Linked DNA regions of Homo sapiens. The protein of the gene in region 4 interacts with the protein of the main gene of each other region in a pairwise test. Each region holds a gene or a part of one and is shown on either strand. Other genes may lie near its edges.

Region 1 (6,888 bases), about 47 Mb from region 4:
GGCGGGTGCCTGGTTGGAGTGGGGATGCCCCTGTGTGGGCAGAAGGTAGGCAAGGATGAAGGAGCTGGGGCTTGGTGGTCCCTGGGTTATCCCAGGCTGACCTGCTTTTCTCCCTGACAGGCTGTTCTTCGCTGGAGCCCGAGAGGGCCACCTTCCCAGTGTGTTGGCCATGATCCACGTGAAGCGCTGCACCCCAATCCCAGCCCTGCTCTTCACAGTAAGGGCCCTTCCTGCTGTAACTCTCCACACACCTCCCTCTCTTTGTGCCTAGTCTAAGCTGGGAGTTCATGCTTTTCACACACACCCCTGTTACCCTTGCAGTCTGCTGCTAGGTCTCACTGGATCTTAGAGGATCTGGCAAATGATACCCATCATCTTTGTTAATATCAAGAGATATAGCAAGGAAAGATCCTGAGTCTTGAAATACCTAAGGCTCTCAGGCTGACTTATTTCCGTTCTCCCATCCTTTTGGGTCAGACTGAACTGACTGTCTCAGGATTCTACAGCCTCAAAAAAAATATATCTCCCTTGGCTCTCCTCGCACCTGTTACCACAGGGTTGCAGCACTGGCCTCTGCTCCTGGCTGGTTGGTCCCTGCAAACACCCACTTCCCCCATCAAGCTTCAGGGCAGCCTGCCAGTCTCTTGGGAAACATCATTGAAATGAAGTTAGTGTTAACAGTACACCAAATACGAAAAATAATAGAGGAAGACTGATAAACTGGAAACTGTGCAAAGGAAACTTGGGACAGGAAAGAGATGGGAGTAAAATATCCCCAGAGTAGAATCATTTTGAGAGAGCTATAGGAAGGAACAAAGACTTGTCCCCATTGAGTCTTTTGAGTTATTTTTATTTTCCTTCTGGATCCTGAATAAAACACTAAAAATGACTTTGGTCCACTGGTGAAGCAGTTAGCAATCAGAATAACAGAGCTCTTGGGAGCCAAGAGCATTTTACAGCATTGCTGTACAATTTCAGAATGTTCAGATGCAGGATGAAGGTCACCTTGACTGGTTGGTTGTCGAAGGTGGCTGGAGAAGACAGTACTCCCAGTGGGCCACACACATTTTTTTGTTTTGTTTTGTTTTGTTTTTTCCAGTTAGAGCTATTGGTGCAGTAGTGTGACTAAAAGGCAGATGTAGCAAGAACCATTAAAATCTTCTCGATTATTTTAACCATCGGATCTCACAAGAGAACAGAACCTTTTGTTGACCTTCACAAGTTATCAGAGGGGAGGAGCATGGTTCCAAGAGAGCCACAGAGATGATTTTGAAGTTGGAAAGTAGACTCTGTCAAGAAAACCTCATAGGGATGTTATGAGGGTTAAGTGAGTTAATCTTTGTCAAATGCTAAACATAGAGACCTGGCACACAGTAAGTGCTATGTAACCAGTTTTGAAATTAATAAAGAAAAGGAAGGAAGAAAAATAGATGACTCAGCCAGGAGAAAAGGATGAGGGCAGGAATACAGCCTTAATCTGTTGTTAACAATCTTCCCTAAGGGATTTTAAAAAAATGAATTTAGCTTGAGCTATAACCAACAGAGGCATACAAATGAGACCGGGGCTGACACAGAGCCAGGTAATACCAGTGTGGCCAGTCTAGCTGCTTATGTCCAGTATCCATTCTAATTGGCTAGTGCCCGTGCCATACGAGTGGTTAAATATTTTGATCATCACCCCTGTAATAAGAAAGGATTTCCTAGCAATAAAGATGTTGTAACATATTGGGTTACTAGGGGAGGTTCTAAAGTCTCCATTTCGAGACATCCATTATACGATGGCATCATCTGCCTGGAGGCTGGGGGACAGCCCCTAATCTGTAATACCAGTCTCTGAATATCTTTCGGATCACTGATGAGCTCCTCCCACTTTCCCAGTGCATCTCCACCCTGCTGATGCTGGTCACCAGCGACATGTACACACTCATCAACTATGTGGGCTTCATCAACTACCTCTTCTATGGGGTCACGGTTGCTGGACAGATAGTCCTTCGCTGGAAGAAGCCTGATATCCCCCGCCCCATCAAGGTGAGAGAAACTCCCTTTGGGGTCCCCTCCCCTTCCTCTATGGTTCTAGCTGCAGTTCAGATTTTTAAATCACCTCTGTTCTTAGCTGCTGACCACACGTCATCATCTCTGATGGTAGCAGACCCTTTGGAAAGCAAGGGCCATTTGTGAATGGGACCACTATTTCCATTCTCCACTGGGGATGAGATCGGAGCAGACTGCAGCTGGGGAATAAGTCAGATCAAATGTGACTTTCATCATGACATTCCTTTGTTTCCTACCAGTCTAAGCCTTAAACTCCAGCTGACTTTTCAAGGTTCTCTTATCTCCCCAACACTTCCTCCTTGTCCCTCCAGATAGCTGGGTTCACTATGTGCTATGTCTCCATCCCAGAATGACTTCCTCCTCCCATCTGCCCATCTACATTTTAACCATTTTCCAAATGCGCCTCAAGTACCTCCTCTTTCTTGAAGTCTTCCAGTCTACTGCAACCTCCCATGATCCTCCCTTTATAAACTCCCACAGTCCTACACATATAGGGTGCTCAGTGAACCTAATATTGCTACAAGATATAACTCTGTGATAGGAATTAAAGGGATTGCTCAGAACAGGACATGCTAGAGCATTATGAGTTCTCCTACGAATTAGAAGAATAGAGTGTACTCCAGAGCTATTTGAACAATCCTATTCTAGAAACAGTGACTAGATGCTTCTAGAAGATCCTTCCAGCTGAAAAATCAAAGGCTCTCCAAATCTCTCAGTTCCTCACTGGCATTTCCACCGCCATTTTCTACTCTCACACTTAGAAAATCTGCTAGAGGGAAGAGGAGGTAGAATAACCCCATGTCCCCACCACACACATCCCTTCTGAGCGAGGAAGACAAGGAAGAGAAAGGCAGCCGAATCAGGACTGCCCCTGGAGCCCTGAAGAGGATACTCTCAGGAACTCCCCACATGTGGCCCATAAGGAGCTGACATTTGCCATATTGTGCCCACATAAGGGCCCTGCACAGAAGTGGGCAAGGACCAGGGAGCCTGAGTGACTCGAATCGTCTCCTGCCTGCACCTTGTGCATTGCCACACCTCCCCTCCACCCTAGGACCTCAGCAGACACACCCATGTGCCAGCAAGCTTCTCCATCCCTGTGGGCTTCTCTGGCTGCCACGGGCACATGGCATGCATGATGAGGCCTTGTCTAACCACACCCAAGAGCGAGGACATGGGCAAGGAGGATCGTTTCCTCCCTAACTCCTCCCCATCCTCTTCCTGTCTGACCGACCATGTTCATCAACATTTGTTTATATAGCCCCTGCCCTACCAGGGGTGAGTGTGGGACCACAGAGCCGAGGGAAGCCCAGCCTTTGCCCTTGAGGATGTGTCTCTGTGGGTGAAGAAGAGAGAGAATGCCCCAGTCCCTAGTCCTGGGGGCCACGTGGCCTACACAGTTCATACGCCTCATGCCTCTGCTCCACAGATCAACCTGCTGTTCCCCATCATCTACTTGCTGTTCTGGGCCTTCCTGCTGGTCTTCAGCCTGTGGTCAGAGCCGGTGGTGTGTGGCATTGGCCTGGCCATCATGCTGACAGGAGTGCCTGTCTATTTCCTGGGTGTTTACTGGCAACACAAGCCCAAGTGTTTCAGTGACTTCATTGGTGAGTTGTTGGAGGCTCTGGCTGGCTTCAGGGCCTCCTGGGCTGGAATGCAGTGGTCAGTGATGGGGTTGGGGAGCCACCAGGGCCAGGAGATCTAGGCTCACCTTCTCCTCAGTCCACAGAGCCCTGGAAGAGTCCAGAGCAGGGGAAGCAGATGCCTTTTCCCAGAGACCTCTGAGGGTAGAGAACAGCTGGCATTTCCACACAGACCTTAGACCCGCAAGAATAGGCAACCTGGGCTGGGCACAGTGGCTCACGCCTGTAATCCCAGCACTTTGGGAGGCTGAGACAGAGGATCACTTGAGCCCAGGAGGTTGAGACCAGCCTGGTCGACATAGCAAGACTCCATCTCTGTTATTAAAAATTTTAAAATAAAATAGGCAACCTGTCAGCCATTCTGTGAGAGCTGCCCGAGGCTGGGTGGAGACCAGAGGAGACCCTGGACTTAGGGGTCAGTGGGCACAGGGAAGGTGGGAAGGCTGGGGCCTTCATAAGCAAAGAGTAGCCGGCGGGAGATGCAGGAGGCAGACCAGGTGGCGAGGATTCTCTTCAACGCACTGACTGCTCTGAAGAGGCAGAACCTGGAGCAGGAGAGCCAGGAAGGGCCGGGGCCACTTGGCCAGGTTGGTGGGATACTCAGCATTGGCCTGGTTTCTGTGTGATCTCTTCCTACAGAGCTGCTAACCCTGGTGAGCCAGAAGATGTGTGTGGTCGTGTACCCCGAGGTGGAGCGGGGCTCAGGGACAGAGGAGGCTAATGAGGACATGGAGGAGCAGCAGCAGCCCATGTACCAACCCACTCCCACGAAGGACAAGGACGTGGCGGGGCAGCCCCAGCCCTGAGGACCACCATTCCCTGGCTACTCTCTCCTTCCTCCCCCTTTTATCCTACCTCCCTGCCTTGGTCCTGCCAACACATGCGAGTACACACACACCCCTCTCTCTGCTTTTGTCAGGCAGTGGTAGGACTTTGGTGTGGGTGGTGAGAAATTGTAAACAAAAACTGACATTCATACCCAAAGAACCAGCCTCTCACCCCAGGGTCCATGTCCCAGGCCCCACTCCAGTGCTGCCCACACTCCCAGCTGCTGGAGGAGAGGGGAGATGCCAAGGTGCCCTGCAGGACCTCCCTCCGGGCCACACCCTCAGCTGCCTCTTCAGGAACCGGAGCTCATTACTGCCTTCCCTCCCAGGGAGGCCCCTTCAGAGAGGAGAGGCCACAGGAGCTGCATTGTGGGGGGACAGGCTCAAGCAATTCTGTCCCCATCAAGGGGTCAGCTGGAGAGACCCAAGACCCTATCTGTTCACCAGGGACCCAAAATCCAAGGGGATGCTTCCCTCTGCCCTCTTTCCTGCCCCTCCCCATCATACCTGCACCCACCCCAGCCAGGGCTCCCTGTCCAGAATTCGGTTCTCCTCAGGACGCCAACTCCCAGAGCTAAGGACCAAGGAGAAGAACAGCCTCTCCACCCCCAAGCCAGGCGGTTGAGGAACATATTGAGAAAGGTTCAGATTGCAGAAACCCAGCCCTGCCCCTGCCTCCTGCATCCAGCCCCCAACATGGTGCCAAAGCTTCCAGAAGCCAAAAAGCTTCTGATTTTTAAGGTAGTGGGCATCTCTCTCCTAATGACGAAGCTGCTCAGCAACTCCACCTGCCCGCCGCAGGAAGGAGCAGTCCCCTGCTATCCCTGCAGCCACTCCCAGCACACCCGCACACAGCCAGCACCACCGCCCCCACCGTGCACTTCTCCTCTCTGGGCCTTGGCTTGGGACCAGGTACGAAGGATCCCCAAGCCCTTCAGGCCTGAGATCAGAGCCAGATCAGCCTTAAGTCACCTCCCATCCAAGAACTTGGCCTAAAAATACTCCCCTATTTCTAACCCTCAGGACGGATCTGATATTAAATGCCTTCCCTGGGAGGAAGGGTGCTTTCCCCCTCCCTAGAGGTGCCCATTCCATACCCTGGGAGACTGAGGAGAGCATTGGCTGAAGCCCAGTTCCTTTCCCATCCATCCCCAACTCCAATAATCCCCCACTCCTCGCAGGTCTCAGTGTCATGCTGTCTTGGGGCAGGGTGAAAGGGTAGTGGCAGCAGGGCGCCCACTCTGGAGATCCTCAAAAAAGGCCCTCCTCTGTGGCTGGCAGCCTCTGACCTTTCCCTGGGCTTCAAAGGAAGGCTATGGAGTTTGCTGTGGGCCCTGCAACCTTCCCAGCCACTCCTGCTGCACTAAGGACTTAGGATCCTTTTATCACAAATCGGGATTCTCTCCCCCACCCCGAATTCTGTCTGCTTAAACTGGAATACACAGGAGCCCTTCCTGGCCTGGATGGTGTCTCCCAGCTTCCCCGCCCAGCTTGCCCACCCCATAGTTGGTGAGATGCCAAGTTTGGTCTGAGTTGTGACCCCTTCAGAGTAGATGCCCGGCAGGCTGGGGTTGGCCCCTGGAGGGTCAGGGGACCATCTTCTTATTCCCTCTTTTCTCATTCCTCCAACTTCCTCCCCTCCTTCAATTATTTTTTTGTAAAGTTGATGCCTTACTTTTTGGATAAATATTTTTGAAGCTGGTATTTCTATTTCTTTTGGATTTTTTTTAATGTAAGGTTGTTTTGGGGGATGGAGTTAGAACCTTAATGATAATTTCTTTCGTTTGGTGTAGGTTTTAGAGATTTGTTTTGTGGAGAGGTTTTTTTCTTTTGATGTAATAAAATTTAAAATGGAAATGAAGTTGGTGGTGTTGGTAATTAAGTAACCTTTTGAGACAGAGTCACCAGGCATTTCCTCTTAGGAGATCTTGCCAGGTTCCTTCCAGAATGACATTCCTAAAAGCTCTCGCTCTCTGTAACTTCTAGCTATCCTAGGGACTCAATGCCAGTGCATTCAAACCACTGACTCTCATTCTGAACCAAAAACATCAAAAGACAAAAGTACAACGAATTTACAGATCTCAATTGTTTACTGTAATTCTGGAATCAGGCAACACTTCATTCCATAAAATAGAATACATATTCCAATGAGTTGAGCAGAAGAGGTTGGCTTTACAGACAGGGAGGGCTGAAGAAAGCTGGTTAGTCACTTTTCGAAGTTGCTTTTCTTGGCCGGGCACAGCGGCTCACTCCCGTAATCCCAGCACTTCGGGAGGCCGAGGAGGGAGGATCTCTTGAGCCCAGGAGTTTGAGACCAGCCTGGGCAACATAGCAAGACCTCGTCTCTACAAAAGATAAAATTAGCT
Region 2 (7,376 bases), on a different chromosome or scaffold from region 4:
ATTACAGGCAAACACCACCATGCCTGGCTACTTTTTGTATTTTTTTTTGGTAGAGACAGGGTTTCACCATGTTGGCCAGGCTGGTCTCGAACTCCTGACCTCAAGTGATCTGCCCTCCTCAGCCTCCCAAAATGCTGGGCTTATAGGCATGAGCCACCACACCGGCCATCCCTATTATTATTATCCCATTGCACAGATGAGAAAACTGAGTGTAGAGCTAGAGTTAGGTTACAAGCCCAAGACCACATGGTTAGGAAGTGCCAAGAAGCAGGTCCATGTCAGGCTTATTCACCAGACTCACCTGGAGGGTGGGGAGAGACTCGTTCCTCCTGCCTCCTCCCCATCTCTGCTCAGTCCCCCTGACCAAGATTCTTCAGAGTTCGGTGTCCCTCAGCGCCCATGCCCTACCCCTTCCTTCTCACCGGGGCCCTTCTTATCATCAGTCACTGCATCCTGTTCCTCCCTTGAAGCCCCCAGATGAGTTCTCAAGGCCACCACCAAGTCATCACCTTCCTCACTCCTCTCTCCAGTCTCAGGCCTGTTCTATGGGGAACCCACTCTGTCCCGCGGGAAAAACCCTCAGCAGGCGGTTCCTTGTGGGGGCTCCAGAGAGAGGTGAAGGAGGCCACGCGGGGCACCGCCTGCTGAGCGGGAATCCCGTCCCTAACCGCTGGCGCCCCTCGAGGGGAGGGGCGAGGGCGGAGGTGGTTCTGCTGCGGCATCTGTCCCAGGCGGGCGGGAAGCTGCTGCATTAAATTGTAAAATCGATTTATTGACCGGCAGGTGCGAGCAGCGGCAGATGGAGAGTAGCCCTGCCGGGGCGCATCTGCGGGGAGCGGCGGCATCGATCCCGGCCCCCCTCTGAAACCCGTCGGTCCTGGGCCTTTCTCGCCAGCTCACTCCCAATTGTAGGGCCAAGGTCCTTGAAACTGCGGCGCCTGAATGGCTAGGGTAGCTCGACTCCCTCCCCCAACACCCTCCTGGCCTCAGGCCCCGGGCTGCGCCCCCACGGCTGCCAGGCTCTGCCAGTCCCACTGCCCCAGTTGGCACGCGGCGGGCCGGGCTGACGCGTGGCAGCGCCCTGCGGCAGATGAGGCACGCGCCGGCCTCATTTCAATGTGAATGGATCGAATGGAGCAGCCATGTGGCAGCAACAGTTTGCAAATCTCCACGCCTTCTGTGCAGCTCCCCGGCCGCCGCTCCCTGCACGTGGCCCCTTCTCCGCAGCGACCGCAGCGGCGCCCCTCAAGGCTTAAGCGCCCCGCCCAAGCCAGGCCTGCTTCCCCGCCCCTGGTCTGCCCAGCAGGCACGGTGGCCCGGCCCCCACCGCGCTCCTACCCGGGTGCAGTGTGCCCCGCGAAGAGCGCCGTCCCCTGAGAGGGGGTTGGGGAGAGGAGAGGCAAAACCGCGCTGAAGGTCTCGGAGCTGCGCCTGCGGCCGTGGGGAGGGCACAGAGGCTACGCTGCGGGGGAGGAGTCCCGAGGCTCTACGAGGCTCCTGTTGCGCCCCAATAACCTGGGGTCAGCTTGGGGACACCGCTGGAAGGCGACCTTAGCGCTTCCCGGTCCTCAGTGCCGGTTCTTATGGCTGGAGGACTATGCGCAATGGCCAAGCGTAGGGGGACAGCAGAAGCAGAAGGCCTCTAGGGGCAGAGGCGGTGGGCCTTTCATGAAGCCAGGCCTCGACCCTGCGCCCGCTTCCGACGTTGGGGAGTGTTGAGGGTGCGGGTCGAATTGAGGAACCCTGGGCCTGCGGAGGGTCAGTGGTCTTTCGGACTCTGGGTCTATCTGTGCACCCTTTCCATGCTGTTGTGGAGGGTCTGCGTCAGGGGCGGGGGCAGCCGACTTCGATGGGGGTCCAGCCCCACGGTGATCGGTGGCCTCCCATCCCAGGACCACGCGTGTAGCGTTCTTCCGCCCGCAAGTCCGAAAGTCCCGAGTGGGAGAAGAAGGAAGGCGCAGCCCCAGTTTTGGGCTGACAGAAACACTTGCGGCCTTCGCACTGGGCTCCCCACCCGCAGCATGACCCTCTCCTGCTCAGCAAATGTGGGCAAAGCTCGACCGCAGCGTGTGGGAGCGCTCGTAGGTACCCAGGGCCAAGGGTGGCAGTGTCCTAGCCCGGGAATGAGCTTCTGGGACAGCGCCTCCGCAAATAGGTGTTTCATGAATGTCTTTTGATGCTGAGAATTTAACCCTTTCCTCTTCTGGTCAGAGCCTTTCTAGATCTCTGGGATCTCCTGGGTGCTGCCTCTCTGAAGATAATAATCCCAACTTTTGTTTGGTCCTTGATAATTTGCAAAGTACATTTGGGCACATTAGTCTGGGCGTGTATGAGGGTAGAGAGTGTTCCAGATTTTCCAGTATTGGGAGAGATGCCTTGTGTGGGACTAGATGTCTCCCTTGAGGGTCAGGTAAGCAGGACCAGCGCCAGAAAAGGAGGATGTTTTTATTAACTCCTGGGCCAGGATTTGGAGTTGAGAGAGGACAGGGCTAGGTAGGGCTGGATGCCAGCTTGGAGGGGAGCAAGGGGCACCCGCTGGCATCTTAGAGAGGCAAGTCCAGGGATCCATAGGGTATAGGCGGAGAGAAGATCTGGGAGCCCACTTGCCAGGATCGCCGGGAGGCACGCCCCGGACTCCCCCTCCCTCGGGCCTGGGACTCCGCCTGCCCATAACCTACATTAACTCCCGAGCGCAGCCTGGGCCCATCTGCCGCCCCGCCCCACCTCGGTTCCCCACGCCAACCCGCTCGCGCCAGATGGTGGCTGGGAGGGGTGGCCGTGCGTGGGGGACCCCGGAGCCCGTCTCCTCACCTCGCCCCTCCCCCAACCCACGCTCCCAACCTCTTGTTTCTCATCCTTCCCCCCCCCACCACACCCGTCCCCCAGTCCTCCACCACCACCACCCAACTCAAAAAAAAAAATCAGACCATGCTCGGCATTGGCAGCTGTTGGGCTTCTCGCCGCTCCCCCACCCTTACCGCCTCCCCCGGGTTCGCGCCGCGTCCCGGCTCCCCCCCCGCGCTGATCTTACCGCCCGACTACAGCCATCACCTCGCGGGCGGGCTGACAGCTGAAGCCACAGGGCCCCCGCTGCCCTCGGCGTCGCAAAGAGAGAGCTCCCCGGCACCCCTGAGACTGGGAGAAGCCGGCCCTCCCCGGTCTGCGGTCTCCGGGGATCACGCCGGGTTCCGAGAAAGCAGCTGCGCTGCTGCCGCTTGGAGGAGTGGGGCCACCCAGGGGACCCTCTCGGGCGAGACTTGGGAAGCCGCCTGAAACTCAAACAGCTCCGCAAGCCTCCAGTTCCACCCCACATCCCGCCTTATGAGGCGAGGACCCGGGCCGACCCGGCCTCAGTCCCTCACCTTGATTCTCCAGTGGCCTGAGCCAACTCTGGCGTCAGGAGAGTTCCTCCTTGCCCCAGCTGAGCGACAGGGCGCGGCCGGGGGCTTGGGGCTGCTGGGGTGGGGGGAGGCAGTGGGCGCAGGAACTGAAGCTGGACTCAGGTGAGGGGACGCGCTGGAGGCGGGGCCAGAACCTCATTACCATACAGCTGAGGACGCGCCCCCCTCCTACCTCCGGGACCACGCCCCGCCCTCCCCCACCTCAGGGACCGCGCGTCTGGGTCTCTGGCACGCGCCAAGCCCTGGCAGGGGGCAGAAGGGAGAAGGCACGCGCTGGGCACGCCCCCCCTTAGCTAGAGAGGGAGACGCCCAACAGGTGCACAGAGAGGGCCCCGAGCCTTAGACCCTTAGCCCCTAGCCTTGCTCAGAGTGGCCACAGAGAGGTTAACGCTTCTGCTGGCTTCCCTGCTGCGCTGGGGACGCGTGGTGGGTGGGCACTCATAGGTTGGGGGCCGTTGAGACAAGGGCTCCAGAAGCTCCAGGAAGGAAAAGGAGATCGGATTTCCCTAGCGCTGGTTTTTGCATTCCGGGCTTAAGTTCTTTTTACCTGCTTTGGAACACTAGGTAACTAGCGCCTGCTGCGGATGCACAGCCTACAGGGACTGCCTAGTGTCTCCGCCCCCAAGACCATCCCCGAACCACCCACTCACCTCCTGCCCCATTACCGGGCAACCCCTCTATCCTCCGGCGGCCAGGGTCTCAGCCCTTAACCCCGCCATCACGGAGGACTGGTCACCTCGGCACGCGCAGAGCTGGGGGACCTAGAGGTTGGGAGCGGCACGGAGGGGCGGGGACCTGCGCCCGACTGGCTGACGGGGAGGGGGGAGCGGCGGGGGCGGAGGCCCCCTCCGGGCGGCGCTGGGACTGTAGCAGCTAGAGGCCGGGAGGGGAGGGGAGAATGACCATGAGTCTGAGTGACAGGCGGCGAGGAGAGGAGCCAATATATATAAGGAAGGCCCCCAGCGCGCAGGTTTCAGTAGCGGCGCTGCGCGCAGGCCGGGAACACGAGGCCAAGAGCCGCAGCCCCAGCCGCCTTGGTGCAGCGTACACCGGCACTAGCCCGCTTGCAGCCCCAGGATTAGACAGAAGACGCGTCCTCGGCGCGGTCGCCGCCCAGCCGTAGTCACCTGGATTACCTACAGCGGCAGCTGCAGCGGAGCCAGCGAGAAGGCCAAAGGGGAGCAGCGTCCCGAGAGGAGCGCCTCTTTTCAGGGACCCCGCCGGCTGGCGGACGCGCGGGAAAGCGGCGTCGCGAACAGAGCCAGATTGAGGGCCCGCGGGTGGAGAGAGCGACGCCCGAGGGGATGGCGGCAGCGTCCCGGAGCGCCTCTGGCTGGGCGCTACTGCTGCTGGTGGCACTTTGGCAGCAGGTAACACGTCCCGCGCCCTCTCCGTCCCCTCTGCCGCGCTCTGGGCCTCAGCCCCGGGCACCAGCTGAGCTGACCGGTCCCCTCCCTCCTTCCCTCGGTCCCTGTGCAATAGCGCGCGGCCGGCTCCGGCGTCTTCCAGCTGCAGCTGCAGGAGTTCATCAACGAGCGCGGCGTACTGGCCAGTGGGCGGCCTTGCGAGCCCGGCTGCCGGACTTTCTTCCGCGTCTGCCTTAAGCACTTCCAGGCGGTCGTCTCGCCCGGACCCTGCACCTTCGGGACCGTCTCCACGCCGGTATTGGGCACCAACTCCTTCGCTGTCCGGGACGACAGTAGCGGCGGGGGGCGCAACCCTCTCCAACTGCCCTTCAATTTCACCTGGCCGGTGAGCACAGCCTGGGCGCACTGGGAGGTCGCAGAAGCCGAGAGAGGAGGCGCCCTGGGACCAAAGCCCCCTCCCCAGATTTCCTTGTACACACACCCCCACCCCCAAAAAGCCCAGGATGCATTCTTTCCTGGCTCTTCCCGACTCTCTCCTGAGACTGATCCCAGAAAAGGCTCTCACCAGTCTCCGTCTTCCCAGTTTATGTCCTCCCGTCCCCAGCTCTTGGGACACGATTTTCATTACCTACCACTCTGGGGCGGTACCCTACCACCCCCTCCTCCAGTGGCTCTCCCTTACACTCTCCCGTCTCTCAACCCTCCCTCTACCGGGGGTTCTCCTCTCGCCTTCCCTGCTCAAGCGCTACACTGTGCACAGCCCCGTTATGTTGACCCGGGCGCAGTAACTGAATCCTGCAATTAGATTAATTAAACAGGCTGCCGCAAGGCACCCCCACCTCTCCCCGCTTGCTCATCTCGCCATCTCTCCGTCCCCCCACCCCCTTTCCCAGGGTACCTTCTCGCTCATCATCGAAGCTTGGCACGCGCCAGGAGACGACCTGCGGCCAGGTGAGTAGCTCGCTCCGCCACCACAGGGGGGCGACACGGCGCAGCGCCGAAAGAGTTAATCTGTTCTAGGCGGGGGAAGTGCGGGCTTGGGGGTGGGAGGCAGGACGCTTAGCTTGGCCTGGAGCTGCGCCCCGCGCTGGACGCTCGGATTCCGCTCGCTGCCTGGACTCAGAGCACAATTGCGTTTCCTGCGGGTTATTTTTGGCGTGGGAACGCGGGGAGTACGGCGGTGAGAAAGGCTGAAGCTGCCAGCGCCGCTGACGGGCCCCTTCCTGTATTTTACACCTTTCGCGAATTCCGCTCCTTTGGAAAGGGAATAATGGCTTTGGGATGTTGTTCTGACACAGAGGAAAAGGATATTTCAGCAGCACAACAATTCTCACTTTGAAAAGGAAAAAAGAAAACCATTACCCACCTCTGGAGGCAGAACCCCTGAATGGGCACCAAAGGACCCCCTGCTCCCAGGGTCCTCTCTAGCCTGGGGAGCTTTTCTTTCTTTTTCTCTTTTTTCCATTTTGACCTCTTTTCCTCTTTCCCCTCCCTATCTGCCTCCAAGACCCTGGGATATCTTAACATCCTTCTATTGTCCCCTTTTTGAATACTATCAGGCCCCCTGCACATGCACACACGTAGGGCAGCTACGTAGCGGGGCTTTGGGTCCCTCTGGCCTGTTCTTGCTGGCAGGCGGGGGTCATCTGGATAACTGGGCTGATTGGTTGGCTGATCACCATCATCACAGCCAAGAAGGACATTGGCCAGCCGTCACTGGCACCCTTGGGGACTGGCGACCCTTCCCTGACCCGACCCTCTGCCCCCTCAGAGGCCTTGCCACCAGATGCACTCATCAGCAAGATCGCCATCCAGGGCTCCCTAGCTGTGGGTCAGAACTGGTTATTGGATGAGCAAACCAGCACCCTCACAAGGCTGCGCTACTCTTACCGGGTCATCTGCAGTGACAACTACTATGGAGACAACTGCTCCCGCCTGTGCAAGAAGCGCAATGACCACTTCGGCCACTATGTGTGCCAGCCAGATGGCAACTTGTCCTGCCTGCCCGGTTGGACTGGGGAATATTGCCAACAGCGTAAGCAGTCAAGCTCCCACCTGTGTGGAAGGGGAGGGTCCCCTGAGGAAACACAGTGGAGCTTCTTGGTCACAGCTTGCCTCCCTTGAAGAGTGGGTCTGGGCCTCCTACTAGCTGGGCCTCAGGGATGCTGAGGGTGGGCTTGACCTCAGACCTCCTGTCTCTTCCCAGTGCTCCTCCCATCATGCCAAAGCCCACAAGAACCCCATCATGACATTCCATCCAGTTTGGCTTCTCCTTCCCTGTGCCATTATTTCACTTTAAGACACTCGGGGCTCCTCTGGGAGGCCAGGAGTAGGAAGAGGGCCCAGGAGAGCTAGGGGATCCCCAGGGCCAGCAGGTGAGAATGGGGCTTAAGAGTCCTTGGTATCCCAGCCTCACCCAGCTCTGTGTTCTTCCCTTAGCTATCTGTCTTTCGGGCTGTCATGAACAGAATGGCTACTGCAGCAAGCCAGCAGAGTGCCTGTGAGTAGGGGACAGGAAGTGGTGAGTGGGAGCCCTCCCTTGGCCAAGGCCTCTCACCTCACTCTGCCTCTCTCTTGTTCCCCAGCTGCCGCCCAGGCTGGCAGGGCC
Region 3 (7,649 bases), on a different chromosome or scaffold from region 4:
TTTTTGAGACAGATTCGTGCTCTGTCGTCCAGGCTGGAGTGGAGTGATACGACCTTGGCTCACTGCAACCTCCGCCTCCCGGGTTCAAGCGATTCTCCTGCCTCAGCCTCCCGAGAAGCTGGGACTACAGGCACGTGCCACTATGCCCGGCTAATATTTGTATTTTTAGTAGAGACGGGGCTTCATTATGTTAGCCAGGCTGGTCTCGAGCTTCTGACGTCAGGTGATCCACCCACCTTGGCCTCCCAAAGTGCTGGGATTACAGGCGTGAGCCACCGCGCCCGGCCTCATCTCTAATTTTAAAAAAAGGAAATATTAATGCATATAATCCTCACAACAACCTTGACTACTGTCAACCCCACTTAACAGAAGAGGATCTGAGAAGCCCAGAGAGGTTGAGTAATTTACCAAGGATCACACAGGGATTACTGTCAGAGCTGGGATCCAAACTCGCTGAGTCTGGGTCCAGGGCCTTTGCTCTGAACAACCATGCTATGTTACTCCTCGTGTATTCATGAGTGTCTCCTCTGTGCCAGGCACTGTTCTCAGTGTAGGGGACAGAGCAATGGAAAAAACTGACAAAACCCCACCCTCGATGAGCTTATGGTCTTATGGGAAGGCAGGGACAATAAACAGAAGAGTAAAATACCAGGGCTGCTACCTGTGACAAGTGCCATAGAGAAACACCAATGGGGCGGGAGACAGGGAGTAGGAGGAATGTTAAATAAGGCCATCAGGGAAGGTCTCCCTGAAAAGGTGCCACTGGAACCAGAACTGACGGAGACAAAAGGACACTGGGGCTCTGGGAGAGCAAGTCATCTGCCTGAACTCCCCCTACGTCCCTGGAAGGAATAAGTGGCACAGGCAGGCGGGGCTGCTAGGCGGTTTACAGGACATGGAATCATGTTAAGACAAAAAGGCAGGTCTCTTCTGTGGCTTTCCCTACCCCTCTTACAGAGACCCCCTGCCAAGGCAGCGTGGGTGGGCCTCTTTGGCTCTTAATTAAACACCTGGCAAATTTGGAGAGCCCAGCTGGGCAGCACACTCCTACCTCCCGACGAGGGTGGGCGGCCAGAACAGACGACAGGGGAGGTTCTGGGCTCTGGCCAAGCCCAGACCCTCCCTGCACTGCTCCCAGGCCCTGCTGGGGACGCGTTTTCTCAGGCAGATGAGTTATCTTTTGTCCTAATCTCCTTTGAGGTTCTGATCCCACTTGGGTTTCTGCCGATTTTACCACGGTGCAGAAGAAACAAGGACAGCTCACGGGGCCCTGGGGCCTTGTGACTGTATATATTTACTGCAATTATAGTCATTTCTAACCTTAATTTAGGACACACCAGATGCCAGGTATGAACATATCTCATTTTACATTCATATTCTATGAAGTCTGAATTATTAACGTCCCATTTTACAGATGAGGGGCCTGAGATAGAGAGAAGGGAATTTGATCAAAGTCAACAACAAGTGAGTAGAGAGAGGAATCCAGGGAGTCTGAGGCCAACTCTTTGCCACTGTATACACACACACCGCTCCAGTGCCAGGGCCTGAGCTGGGGACAAGGTCAATGTGGCTGACAGGCAGGACAAGAGGCCATTCCAGATGAGTGCAGAGAAGACCCACAGCCATGGGGTGGAAGCAGGCCCAGTGGAGGCATCCGAGACCTCACAGGTCGTTAGAGAGGGCTTCCCGGAGGAAGGAACAGCTGGGCTGGGCCCTGAAGAATCATCAGGAGGCGGCACGGTGTGTGCAGAAGGTGCCACTCTGGAGAGGATCCCCAAGACCTGTGTGCCACCTGTCGGACTGGAGAAGGCAAGGAAGGAAGTTGATCTGGGCAGGAGGCATGATGAAAGCCTGGGTCCAATCCCCATCCGCTCCTTACTGAAAAGCTAGGAAACGGTCAGGAGATGTTCGCTGGGCCGGCGGCACTCCGCTGAGGCCTGCACCAGCTCATGGAGTTGTCTCCCAAACTCTTGCTGGGAAGGTGCTATTTTTGGCCCTCTAAAGGTCAGAAAACAAGCTCAAAAGCCTTCAGGACTCGGTCTGAGGTCACCGGGCGATGAATGGAGGGGCCCTGTCTGCACCCAGGCAAACAAAGAGGCTCCAGACTGCCAGGCCGGATGCGCTCCGGGCTGGACGCCGGCTCCGCGTGTCTGGGCTTGCCATTCCTGGACCGCCAGACTTCATTTACTACTATTTTTATTTAAAAAGACTCACTTGGAAGAAAGTGATAGATTTCTTGAAAGGAAAGCTGGTATGACTGCTCTGAAGGAAAACCAGTTTTCACTTAGCACCAATGGAAAGTGACGGAAATGAAACATAACAAACAGCACTGTGGGTTTCTTGCCCGCGGCTTCCCTGAGGACGCCTGCTCTTCCACTCAGAAGAAAAGGGAGGAGCAGCGAGCGTCGGGAGGTGTTCAAAACACAGCGAGACCCAGCCAGAAGGCCTGGACAACAACTCCGCAGGCAACGTGTGGAAGTTCAGACCAAGTCAGTCGGCTGCGCCCCAGCCTGGCTGAGGCTCTGCAGACCCGGGGCTCGGCCGAAGACTGCGCGACCTTGGGCAGAGCGCCACACCTTCCCGAGCCTCAGTTTCTCTGGCTGTCAACTAGGAGGATCGCTTCCTTGGCTTGCAGGGATTTGGGGTTTCGGGGACCCTGGAAGAGCTCGGTCCCGGGCAGCTACAAGTGCAAAGGCGTCCTTGGCGGAGGCGGCCGGACCCCGGCGCGGCCCTGCGGACGTCTGGGGACCTGGACACCGCCCGGGATCAGGGTCGGGGTGGGGTGCTTACCTGGTGGCCGCGGCAGTCCCCGCGCGCCGTGCGGAGCAGCCGGGCGTCTAGCCTGGGCGGGAGCAGGGCCAGGGCCAGGGGCGGCGGGGCGCAGGGGGCGGTGGCGCCCAGGAGCCAGGTGGCGCGAGGCCGGACCCGGGCGCCCACCCTGCCTGCCGGACCCAGCAACGCCAGCAACCCGGCCATGGTGCGCAGCTAGGCGCAGCACCCGCGCCGCTGACCCGGGAGGCGGGCGGAGGCCGGGGAGGGTGGGCGGAGCTGACCCGGCGAGGGCCCTCCCCGGCCCCGCCCGCCGGCTTCGCCGCCGCGCGCGCGCGCTGGGCGGGACTGAGGAGGCCTGTGCACATCCCCTTGGCTCACCCGCTAGCTCCGCTCCTCGGGAGCCGGAGTCCAGGGCTGGTGGGCGGGGCTGAAGGAGCGCGCCCCGCCTCCTCTCCGCCCACCAGCCCCGCCCCTTTGGGGGTGGGTGCAGGTCTTTTCAGGGTCTTGGGCTTTCTAACTGTGGTGTGTAGTTGGCGGGTTTCCTTATTCTGCGGGCACAAAGGTGGGCGTAGGGCCGTGGCTTATGAGCTTTTCTCCCTGCAGAAATGGGTGAAATCTGAAAAAAAATTATAGATATGTTTACGTGTTAGCTCCAAAGAAGAAAATAAATATGAGAATTGATATTAGTACATGTTTAATAAAAAGTCCTCTGACCCTCATAGATTGTTGGCGTGAATGTAAAGCGAAAGATGGTGTGGCAGTTTCTTGAAAAGTTAGACATACACTAACCATACAACCCAGCAACTCCACTCCTCGGTAGCTTCTCAAGAGAAACAAAGGCTCGACACTCAAAGACTAAAATGTGAAGACACCAATGTTTGTAGAGATCTTATAAATATTAGTCAACAATTAGGAATGCCCATAAACTGGGACGTACTGTGGCACAAGTCTTCAATGGGACGCAATGCAACAATTAAAGGGAACAGACTACTGATACATGCACAACATAAATGAATCTCAAAGCTCTTATGCCAATTGAAAAAATCTAGGCACAAAAGTCACACACTGGAGGATTCCAGCTACATGAAGTGCCCAGAATAGGCAAAATCACAGAGACCTAAAACAGATCCGTGGTGGCCTAGGGCTGGGAGTGGGAAATGAGATTGACTGCCAAGGAGTGGGAGGAACGTCTTGGGGTGAGGGAAGGATCCTAAACCCAGATTGTAGGGATGGTGACAGCTGTGTAACTAAAACTCGTGGGACTGTACACTTAACATGGATGAATTTTATGCTGTGTAAATTATACTTCAATAAAGATGTTCTGGCTGGGTGGAATGGCTCATGCCTATAATCCAAGCACGTTGGGAGGCTGAGGTGGGAGGATTACTTGAGCTCAGGAGTTCAAGACCAGCCTGAGCAACATAGCGAAACCCTGTCACTACAAAAATAAAAATAAATTAGCCTGGTGTGGTGGCATGCACCTGTAGTCCCAACTACTCGGGAGGCTGACGCAGAATTGCTTGAGCTCAGGAGGTCCAGGTTTCAGGGAGCCACGATGGTGCTACTGCACTCCAGCCTGGGTGACAGAGCGAGACCCTGTCTCTCTAGAAAAAGAAAAAGAAATATATTTTACAAAAGATGTAATATTCTATTAGTCAACTGCAATTCAACTCAACCAAGCTCTTACACAGGCACAGAAATGATATTAAACACATATGCATTAAAAAATATTTATTACATAAGATGGAGTTATAGCTGTGAAAGTAACAGGGTCTGTTGGAGGGAGGTCCTAAAGTGCCCCTGGATGGGAATCCTTCCATTTAAGTGTCTGCAAGAAGCTGGGGAAGAGTGCTTAAGGGTGCAGATTGTCTGTCAGGTTGGCCCTAGAAGTCCAGCTGTGTGATTTGGAAGTAGTGACTCAACTTCTCTGAGCCTTGGTCTTTTCATGTGTAAAATGAAGATAATAATAGTTTCCCCCATGAGATTGTTGAGATAATTCTTTGACACAGTTCTTGGAAAGGGCTTCACTCAGTGCCTGGTGCACAGAGAGGGCACACACGTTAGCTGGGATGTTGTAGAGATGCCTTGCCTGAAGCCCCTCTGTCACCCGGTGACAGTGCCACCTCCAGATGGCATCTGATCTCGACTTCCTCATGGTTCCCATGATTTTCTTTCTTTTTTTTTTTTTTTTGGAGATGGAGTCTCGCTTTGTCGCCCAGGCTGGAGTGCAGTGGCGCGGTCTCAGCTCACTGCAACCTCAGCCTCCCGGGTTCATGCCATTCTCCTGCCTCAGCCTCCCAAGTAGCTGGGACTACAGGCGCCCGCCACCACGCCTGGCTAATTTTTTGTATTTTTAGTAGAGACGGGGTTTCACTATGTTAGCCAGGATGGTCTCGATCTCCTGACCTCGTGATCCTCCTGCCTCGGCCTCCCAAAGCGCCCGTGATTTTCTTGTCACCAGGCCTTCTTCATTCATTTAAGTTTCCTGCCCAGGCTTCATGGGCAGTTGAGTTTGTGATTCATGCTATATGCTTATTAGAGAAGAGAAAAAGGTAATTTTGTTTTTCCCTTTAAATTTGACAGTAAATATAATACTGTAATTATAGACTTTAGGTTCTTTTTTTCTTCTTCTAAAAGTGAAGAAACTTTTGCTTTTAACAAAATGTATTGGAGCTGCTGCCTGCCTGAACTTGTGACAGTTTTGTTTTTTTCTTATTGTGTCAGCTCTCTTTGTCTCTCTAGAGCAGCAGCTCATGCATGAACTATATTTATTTTAATTTCTTCATTTTCATGAATAGATAATGTGTTCTCACGGTTCAGATTTTTAAAGGTACAAAAAGTCTACACAATGACAAGCTTCCTTCCTATCCCAGTGACCAGTTCTCCTCATTTTTTTCTCCCTAGAGACAAACACTGTTACCCGTTGCTTGTGCATATCCTTCTAGAAAATTTTACATGTGTGCAGGCAAATTCCTATGAACGGTTTTCATTGCTGTTTTTACCCAAGTGGGGCATAGTATACACAGTGTTCTTCACCTGGACTTTTTTTGCTTCCATTATATTTTAGAGTTTTCTGAATATGTACACAAAAATCTTCCTTATTCTTAAAATCTGCTTAGCATTCCAGTGTATTCCAGGGTGCTGTAATGCTTTAACCAATCCCTTGTGGGTGGACCATTAGGGTATTTAGGGTATTTTCCAGTCCTTGTGATCATAAACCATGCTGTGATGAACCAGCGGGTATTTCTGTCACTTGCCGTGTTTAAGTATGCCTGTGTAATAAATTCCTCAAAGTGAAATTGCTTAGTGAGAAGATATGTGTATTTGTAAATTTGAATAAATGGCAAAATTTCACTCCATAAAGGTTGCAGAGTACAGCAAATGAGAGTTTTTTGTTTGTTTGTTTGTTTTGAGATGGAATCTTGCTCTGTCACCCAGGCTGGAGTGCAGTGGTGTGATCTCAGCTCACTGCAGCCTCTGTCTCCCAAGCTCAAGTGATCCTCCTGCCTCAGCCTCCTGAGTAGCTGGGACCTCAGGAGTGCACCACCACGCCTGGCTAATTTTTGTATTTTTAGTAGAGACGGGGTTTCACCATGTTGGCCAGGCTGGTCTCAAACTCCTGGCCTCAGGTGATCCGCCCGCCTCGGCCTCCCAAAGTGCTGGACTTACAGGCATGAGCCACTGCGCCTGGCCAAGAGTGTCTATTTACCCCGACTCTAAATGGTGTCTTTAGCAGAGAAATGTAGGACTGACTTTTATGATCTTAACTTGAGAATCTGACATTAAAGGCAGCCATATAAGGCCAGGCGCGGTGGCTCACGCCTGTAATCTCAGCACTTTGGAAGGCCAAGGCAGGCTGATCACCTGAGGTCAGAAGTTCGAGGCCCGCCTGGCCAACATGGTGAATCTCAGTCTCTACTAAAAATACAAAAAATTAGCCGGGTGTGGTGGTACATGCCTGTAATCCCAGCTACTCAGGAGGTTGAGGCAGGAGGTTGAGGAGGAGGTTGAGGCCCCTTGAACCCAAGAGGCGGAGGTTGTGGTGAGCCGAGATCGTGCCACTGCACTCCAGCCTGGGCAACAAGAGTGAAACTCCATCTTAAGAAAAAAAAAAAAGGTCTTCATCCTTGTCATCTTTGCATTGAGCTGGCTGAGGAGGAAAAGGAAGAGGAAAGGTTGTTCTTGCTGTCTCAGGGGTGACAGCGCCTATAGTGACAGCTACTCCGGAGGCTGAAGTGGAAGGATTGCTTGAGCCCAGGAGGCAGAGATTGCAGTGAACTATGATCACACCCCTGCACTCCAGCCTGGGCGACAGTGAGACCCAGTCTCAAAATAAAATAAAATAGTAAAATAAAAAATAATAATTAAAAAAGCAGGCAAGAAGTGCCTTTCAAGGTATTAAAATATGAAGCTGTTTTCTTCTTTTCGTAATCTCTCTCCCTTGAGTTGTCATGGTGATTTTTACTGCCTATTTAACAGTGTCCTTCTATTTTTTTTTTTTCTGAGACAGAGTCTTTCTTTGTTGTCCAGGCTAGAGTGCAGTGGCATGATCATGGCTCACTGCAACCTCAACCACCAAGGCTCAAGCAATCCTCCTGCCTCAGCCTCCTGAATAGCTGGAATTACAGGCGCATGCCACCATATCCTGCTAATTTTTTTAGTTTTTATAGAGATGGGTGCTATGTTGCCCAGGCTGGTCTTGAACTCTTAGCCTCAAGCGATCCTTCTGACTTGACTTCCTAAAGTGTTGGAATTACAGGAGTAAGCCACTGTGCCAGGCCAAAAGGAACTTTTTGAAGGTCACAGGGTTCCATCTGCAACCTTCATTCCTTTGCCTTGTAACATGACACATTCGCAGTTTCTGTGGATTGGGACGT
Region 4 (7,022 bases):
AGTTTCTTTTGCCAAGGTTAAGGACATGCCTGGGAGACAGGTATGTTCCTTTCTCCAAAGATGATTTTGAGGGCTTTAATATTTAAAGTAGGCTGAAGAGCAAAGAGGGAAGGTATGGTAATCCACATGTTGCCAGAGGAAAGGAGCAGGCAAGGGAATAGTCAATTACGTATTTTCTTTTGCTTAGTAAGTTGGGACTTTACATAAGATAAGGTGAACATAGAGTAATTACCTGTGGAGATATTTAACCTGTTATCTGTAGCTATCTGCTTGGGAACAAAAGGAAAAGCAGTTTATTGCATGACTCAGCTTGCAGCTTAATTTTTTCTCTTGACATGGTGGATTGGGGTCCCAAGTTTTTGTTTTGTTTTTAGTGTCAACAGCCTAAAATAGGCAATAGGAAAGAAAATACTGTATGAGAGATGTCATAGTGTTAGACTGTGGAGTTTGGCAATCTATTGTATATGAAAGTTGACAGCAGAGAGAGTTTAAAACTATTATTAAAATTTTAGCCTGGGCTGGGGCACAATGTCTCACACCTATAATCCCAGCACTTTCGGAGGCTGAGGCAGGAGAATCACTTGATCCCAGGAGTTCAAGTCTCCAGTCAGCCATGATCACACCACTGTGACAGCCTGAGGGACAGAGCAAGACTCTGTCTCAAAAAAAAAAAAAAAAAAAAAAGTTTGAAGGAATGATAGTGGCAATAAGAAGCAAGGTATGTATTCTGATTTTTGTGGGAAGTAATAAAGAGGTTTTGGATATGTTGAATTAGGGTCTAGCAGAGTATACAGGTGTAGGCATCCAGCAAGAAACTGGCAAATCCAGAAGTACAAGTAGGGATACAAATTTGGGAGTTATCTTACAGATTATGGTTGAAACTGTTAAAGCTCACAGTGGGAGAGAAAGAAAGAAGATAGAGGATTGATACTGAAAAACCTTGACTCACCTTAAGGAGAAAGAAAGGGAAGAGGAAATCCGGAAAGGAATAATTTAAGAACAAAGAATGCTAAGTGTTCATATGCCAAGATAGGAGAAAATTACAAAAGGGAGGAGGTGGTCTGAAGACAAAAACGGCTATAGGATTTGGTGATTGGAAGTTATTGGTGACCTTTAGAAAAACATGTTCTTCCCTTCTACCTCATACATTGTGAGATTACAGGGGAATAGAGAATGAATGCTGAAGAAATAGAGGTAGTGCATGCAAACAGTTCTTAGAACAAATTTAGCAGTCAAAGAAAGAGGAAAGAAGATGGGAGGAGAGTGATAATGCGTTCCAAGAAATAGTTGTATTGTTTTCTTTATAGAGGTGTATAATTTTAGTTGAGAGAAGGAGCAGAGAAAGATAATAGTTAAGTAATCAAGAAGACAGAGTGTCTGTGAGTTTTGTAAGGAGGTTAGAAGAAGTATGATCAAGATCATCAGTGGATGGTTTCACCTTGAAAAGGAAATAGATCTAATTCAGAGACTAGGGGAAAGGAGTAGTGAGAAGATATAAAGAAACTTTGAGGGAGAAGGAAAGAAAATGTAGAAAGCATTTATCAGAAGTCCTCAGTGTTCTCACAAAAGATAAAGGAATCAGCTAGGGAGAGAGGTAGAAATGGGGTTGGAGACGGTGGTGGAAAAAGGTCTGGAACAGCTATCACTGCGTGTTTATTAAGGAGTTCAGCAAATGAGTAGAAGCGGTTTTAAGGATGAGCTGGAGTCAGCTAGTATGGGTCTATGGTGGAGAATGAGAATATACCTTTCTCCCAGAATATTCAACTTAATGATGGCAAGAAAAGGATTGCAGAATATGGCCCAGGACTGGAAAGATGGCAGAAGATCTTGGGGACAAAGGATTCTAATGATTTACCAAGTGCTTTGTTGAAATTACAACAGGAACTCCTAGATGGGCAAGGATGCAAGTAAAGTCTAAAAAGGTTACAAGGAGGAAATTCAGTAGATGAATAGAAAGTATGAAAAGAGTGGAAATTGTTGTCAGGTTTTTAAGAGTTTGAGATATTGGAGCTGAAGCATGTCTAATATTGAAGTCTAAGTTTACGTCAATTGGTGACTGAAGTGGAATGGAGTTGGAAACTATTGGTTTACAAAGGTAGACTGTCTATAGGGCAGAAGTGTTGGTAGATTCATTCACCAACTGTATTGGCAAGAGAGAGAGTAGAGGGAAGATTATGAGTGCCTTGGAGAAGGAAGATTGCGACAAGGAAAATGAGAGAGTTGAGTAAGGGAGTGACTTGAGCATTAGCTGAGCAGAGGATAGTTGGTGAGTCAAGATGGAAGAATAACAGTGCAGAAGGAACAGTGAAATGCAAGGACACTTTGATCTTTCTTTCATTATTTACAAATCCTAGCCCTAGCTCCAGCACAAATCTCACTGAGCTTCAAGTTTCTTTATCTGTGGAAACGAGATAAAAATAATGTCTACCTCATAGGGTTATCATGAGAATTAAAAGAGATAATGTATGTAAAGTACAGAACCTATCAAAAGAAATATATCAGATGTTCTTATTGCTGCTACTGTTAACGATGACATTGACAAGTATAAAAGATATGTAATCTTGCACTAAGTGGGCTGTGCTGTGTCACTGAATACAGCATAGGATAGATAGATTATTACTTGTGGCCGATGTCACTCCTAACTGCAAAAAGTATTAATACAAGTATTCCTTCACATCTCTCACCTCTAAGTGGTAGGAGTGACCTACACTGAAATTTTTTTAAGGATTTATATCATCACAGGAATATGGTTTTTACTAAGTTTTGATTAAAAAATGACTAATTTACTAATTTGGATATAATGGATAGGAGTATCCGTGGAATCACAGGAAGTTGTTCACTATGAAAAGCCCAATAGAATGGGCTAGTATAGATTTATATGACATCAAAATAAATTGGTGGAGAGTTTCATAGAGTTATATTTCTACAGTTGCAGCTGGCAATGCCAGGGCTTAGGAATATAAAGGTTAGGGTGGTAACCTGGAAGACCATGCTATCTTTAAGGAAGCAGGTTAACACTCATGGAAGAAATGCTAATACGGTAACAGATTCCCAAGTGTCAAAACGAGACAGGCATAGAAGCTAAGAGGAAGGAGAGACCACTTTTTATTTTACATAGGTTCTCTTCAGATGGCCTGTGGAACTTCAGTTCTAGGAAAACATAGTTTTGAAAATGAAAAAAGTTCTAAGTTCTGAGCTCTAAGTAACTTTGCCCATACTCCTAGTCCTTGCAATTTGCTCTGAAGGAGTTTGTTATTTAAAGTTTGGCCATTTGAAAATAAATTGTTGACTTCTAATAGCCTTCTTCCTTTCTTACTACTCTTTGGTGTTTTGACAGGTAAATGGCCAAGACCTAAAGAACCTGCTGCACCAGGATGCTGTAGACCTCTTTCGTAATGCAGGCTATGCTGTGTCTCTGAGAGTGCAGCACAGGGTAGGTATCACTTTGAGCCAGAAACCTGGCACCAGGCTTTTGCACTGTACTTCTGAATAAGCCCAATGTGTGTAATCTTCAGTGTTGCTTTTTGTTTTACCCTCACTCCCCTGAAGAGTTTCTCAGGCAAAGGGAGGGGTCCATTGGTACTTCTGCTTATCATTGAAGGACATTCAGGCCAGGCACGGTGGCTCACACCTGTAATCCCAACACTTTGGGAGGCCAAGGTGGGCGGATCACTTCAGGCCAGGAGTTCGAGACCAGCCTGGCCAACATAGCAAAACCTCATCTCTACTAAAAATACAAAAAATTCAGGCACGGTGGTGCACACCTGTAGTCTCAGCTACTTGGGATGCTAAGGTGGGAGGATTGCTTGAGCCCAGGAGGTAGAGGTTGCAGTGAGCCAAGATCATACCACTATACTCCAGCCTGGGCAAGAGAGTGAGACCCTGTCTCAAAAAAAAAAAAAAGAAAAAAAGAGAAAAAAAAGAGAAATTCACAACAGTATGGCTTATAACCAAGGTCCTTGCTTCAAGATAATATGCCTTAAAGATAAAGCTTGACAACCAAATTAAAACAGATGATTAAAGAAAAGCCAGGTGTGGTGACTCACATCTGTACTCTTAGCACTTTGGGAGGCCAAGGTGGTATGATTGCTTGAGCCCGGGAGTTCAAGACCAGCCTGGGCAACATAGAGAGACCTCATCTCTTAAAAAAATAATAATAAAAATAAATAAAAAATTTTAAGAGTGACATGGACCAATGGAAAATAAATAAATTAATTAATTAAAAAGATGGTAAAAAAACGTAGCCAATTTTACTTTTTGGTAGGGAAGGAACCATATGTCTACCGCTGAAAACTTATTTATAAAACCATTGGATAAAACACTACAAAGATGGTGGGTTTTCTGGTACCCACTATATGCTTTTCCCTGTCACTGCCATGAACCCTTCATTTATCAACTTGGTGACCCTCTTAACCAAATCTTTAGTGTTCATAGGAGAACTCCAGGAAAAAGGAAATGGAATTCAGAATTCAGTCAAGGCAGCACCTATCCCTGCATCTGTTTCTTATTTCCAAGTGTTTTATAATTTGGATGATGATGTAAAGGGAAGCCTGGGTAGATATAATTCCTCCTATAGCATTGAGAATTTCTGAGCATATTCACAAAACAGGTTCCATGTGCCTTTAAATTAAATCAATTTGCTACTTCTTAAATAGGTGCACTCTTCCTCACTCAGTGGCTAAGGATTTAGAAGCTTAAGAACATTTAGAGGAGTTCCTAAAAAAGTAGAGAAGGCAGAACGTGAAAGATACCTGAGAAAACAACCAGTTGCAAGCAGAATCTGGGTGTAATGGATTAGAAAACAGGTTAATAAGAGATAATATTGGTCATCAGTTGCTTCTGCCTTGGCTCTTCTCTTTCTAAAGCATGGGAGCATTTGTGCAGTAGATAAAAACAAGTAAATATAGGGACACACTTCAATATGATTACAATTCTTTTGGAAGGTATGTGAGAAGTTATTTCCAGTGTTCACTTTTAAGGAAACATCCATAAATAATTCCTAATAAAAAAGACCCTTATGTTCAGGCAATTGGCCTAGCCCTAAAAACCATGCCTTCTTATTGAGCATGTCCTTTCAGGACAGCTCATCAGCAAATGAATGAAAAACATAGAGGTGGAATAGAGGGTATAATGGTATTTCATGCAGTCTTGCCTTTCAGATTGAAGTGTCAGTTTTATGAGTTGTAATGAGGCAGTTTAACTGAAATACGATGATGCCATAATTATTGCAAGTTAGCCACTAAAAGTTGATATTAAGAAGAGCTACCCTGAAAACCATCACTAAAATGAAGACCATCCAGCCTCAAAAGGAAACACTTAGCCAATAGAAAATTATAAGCACTAGGATATAATTTCTTTTTGCTTTTTTACATCTGTTCCATATAGATTCACCTTCATCTCTCTCTAGTATTAGAAATGAGCAGATGAAGGGCAAAACCCCATCTTTGGAGGGAGTTGGGTGCCTTCTGGGATCTGGAAAGCATTTTTCAAGTAATGGCATTGGACGTATGTTGGTATTGCACCTATGTTGACATTGCCCACATCTGCTCTTACTACATTTTGATGACTGATTATCTAAGTAAACATTTCCAGAAAGATCCCCCTTCTTCCTCACCAAGTAATATCCAAGTTCCCTATAAGATCATAGGTTTTATCTCATGTCTTCATTTTCCTGATACGATACACAAATAGCAAGGTAGAGGCAGTACAGAAACAGAAATTACCTGACTTGCCCTCACGGGTCCCTTTAGGTCAGCAAGGTTAAATGCCTCCCCATTAGACCTATTTTCTTTCCAAAGATCCTGTGACACTGATGCATCAGCTCAGGACAAAGAGAGGACTCCTTCTGCTAGGTATTGCTGGGGGTTACAGTTTTGGGTGGTCTAGAGTCTACAAACCCAGGTGATGTATCAACCTGGGCGTTTCAGTTGCAAACACACATTAGTCACTAGAGTTAACATTTTTCTTTCCCTTCCAGTTACAGGTGCAGAATGGACCTATAGGACATCGAGGTGAAGGGGACCCAAGTGGTATTCCCATATTTATGGTGCTGGTGCCAGTGTTTGCCCTCACCATGGTAGCAGCCTGGGCTTTCATGAGATACCGGCAACAACTTTGAAAAACTTGCTCTCTTTCAATACTCCCAATGAAGATACATTTCACTCACCCTCCACCCCTGCTATTCTGCCATGTCTTTCCCTCTCTCTGCATAGCCAGATTTGAAGTGACTGATACCCACCCCAAACCTTGCTGTTCACAGTCTCCAATTCTTCATATTCTAATGGGAAAGTAAAGGTATTGTTTGAAGGAAAACTGAAGAAAAGACTTGGCTTAGAACAAATGAGGAGTTATATATTTTACTAGGACTTTTGATAGAAATTCAGCTACAACCCAAAGAGAGAAAGATTGAGTCTTCCTGTCACCATAGGCAATACCTTTTTTCTTAGCTGGCATGCCATAAAGGCCAGCTATGTGATATTAGAGGAAGAAAGGATTTTTCTTTTTAATGATCTTCCTTGGGAAATTATTGTGGCCTTTATTTAATTTCTAACTACGTACCTGGGTGCCTATATCGACAAAGAGTGAGAAGAGCATTTTTACTTTTTTAAAAAAGCAAATACATATATACACATACGTATGCAAATATTATAGTATAATAGTGATCCCTATGGAGAATTAAAGGTGAGAAAGCTACTTTGTGGTGTCTAGGTTTCTGATAAAAGGGATGATCTTAACTGAAGAATTTAAAGAGATACTTAAACAGAGCAAATGTAGTAGGAACAAGGGAGTGAGCCTTATAAGAGGACGTTCAGTCTCATTTATTAAAATAATAACTGAGACTGGGAGAGGTGGCTCATGCCTGTAAATCCCAGCACTTTGGTAGCCTGAAGTGGGAGATTGCTTGAGTCCAGGAGACCAGCCTGGGCAACATAGCAAAACCTCATCTCTATTTAAAAAAAAAATAGAAAAAAATGTAATAACTGAAGCAACTAATTAAAAATCTTAGAAGAACAATATTTATT

Evidence for each region.
Region 1: the proteins of SYNJ2BP (region 4) and SLC7A8 interact in binary tests that used the Homo sapiens proteins (3 or more experiments, as listed by UniProt).
Region 2: the proteins of SYNJ2BP (region 4) and DLL4 interact in binary tests that used the Homo sapiens proteins (3 or more experiments, as listed by UniProt).
Region 3: the proteins of SYNJ2BP (region 4) and FAM210B interact in binary tests that used the Homo sapiens proteins (3 or more experiments, as listed by UniProt).

What each region holds. Positions count from the first base shown.
Region 1 is NC_000014.9:23,124,790-23,131,677, reverse strand, and holds the end of SLC7A8 (large neutral amino acids transporter small subunit 2), read left to right. Parts: intron 1-120; coding exon 121-217; intron 218-1,878; coding exon 1,879-2,028; intron 2,029-3,313; exon of another isoform or gene 3,314-3,481; coding exon 3,482-3,659; intron 3,660-4,334; coding exon 4,335-4,501; 3' UTR 4,502-6,383; downstream 6,384-6,888. UniProt on the Homo sapiens protein: Associates with SLC3A2 to form a functional heterodimeric complex that translocates small and large neutral amino acids with broad specificity and a stoichiometry of 1:1.
Region 2 is NC_000015.10:40,924,964-40,932,339, forward strand, and holds the start of DLL4 (delta-like protein 4 precursor), read left to right. Parts: upstream 1-4,376; 5' UTR 4,377-4,705; coding exon 4,706-4,771; intron 4,772-4,883; coding exon 4,884-5,153; intron 5,154-5,661; coding exon 5,662-5,719; intron 5,720-6,539; coding exon 6,540-6,803; intron 6,804-7,207; coding exon 7,208-7,268; intron 7,269-7,353; coding exon 7,354-7,376. UniProt on the Homo sapiens protein: Involved in the Notch signaling pathway as Notch ligand. Activates NOTCH1 and NOTCH4. Involved in angiogenesis; negatively regulates endothelial cell proliferation and migration and angiogenic sprouting. Essential for retinal progenitor proliferation.
Region 3 is NC_000020.11:56,354,333-56,361,981, reverse strand, and holds the start of FAM210B (protein FAM210B, mitochondrial), read right to left. Parts: upstream 3,009-7,649; 5' UTR 2,977-3,008; coding exon 2,791-2,976; intron 1-2,790. UniProt on the Homo sapiens protein: Plays a role in erythroid differentiation. Involved in cell proliferation and tumor cell growth suppression. Involved in the metabolic reprogramming of cancer cells in a PDK4-dependent manner.
Region 4 is NC_000014.9:70,372,087-70,379,108, reverse strand, and holds part of SYNJ2BP (synaptojanin-2-binding protein), read left to right. Parts: intron 1-3,337; coding exon 3,338-3,433; intron 3,434-5,977; coding exon 5,978-6,118; 3' UTR 6,119-7,022. Other genes in the region: SYNJ2BP-COX16 protein, read left to right, coding at 3,338-3,433, 5,978-6,076. UniProt on the Homo sapiens protein: Regulates endocytosis of activin type 2 receptor kinases through the Ral/RALBP1-dependent pathway and may be involved in suppression of activin-induced signal transduction.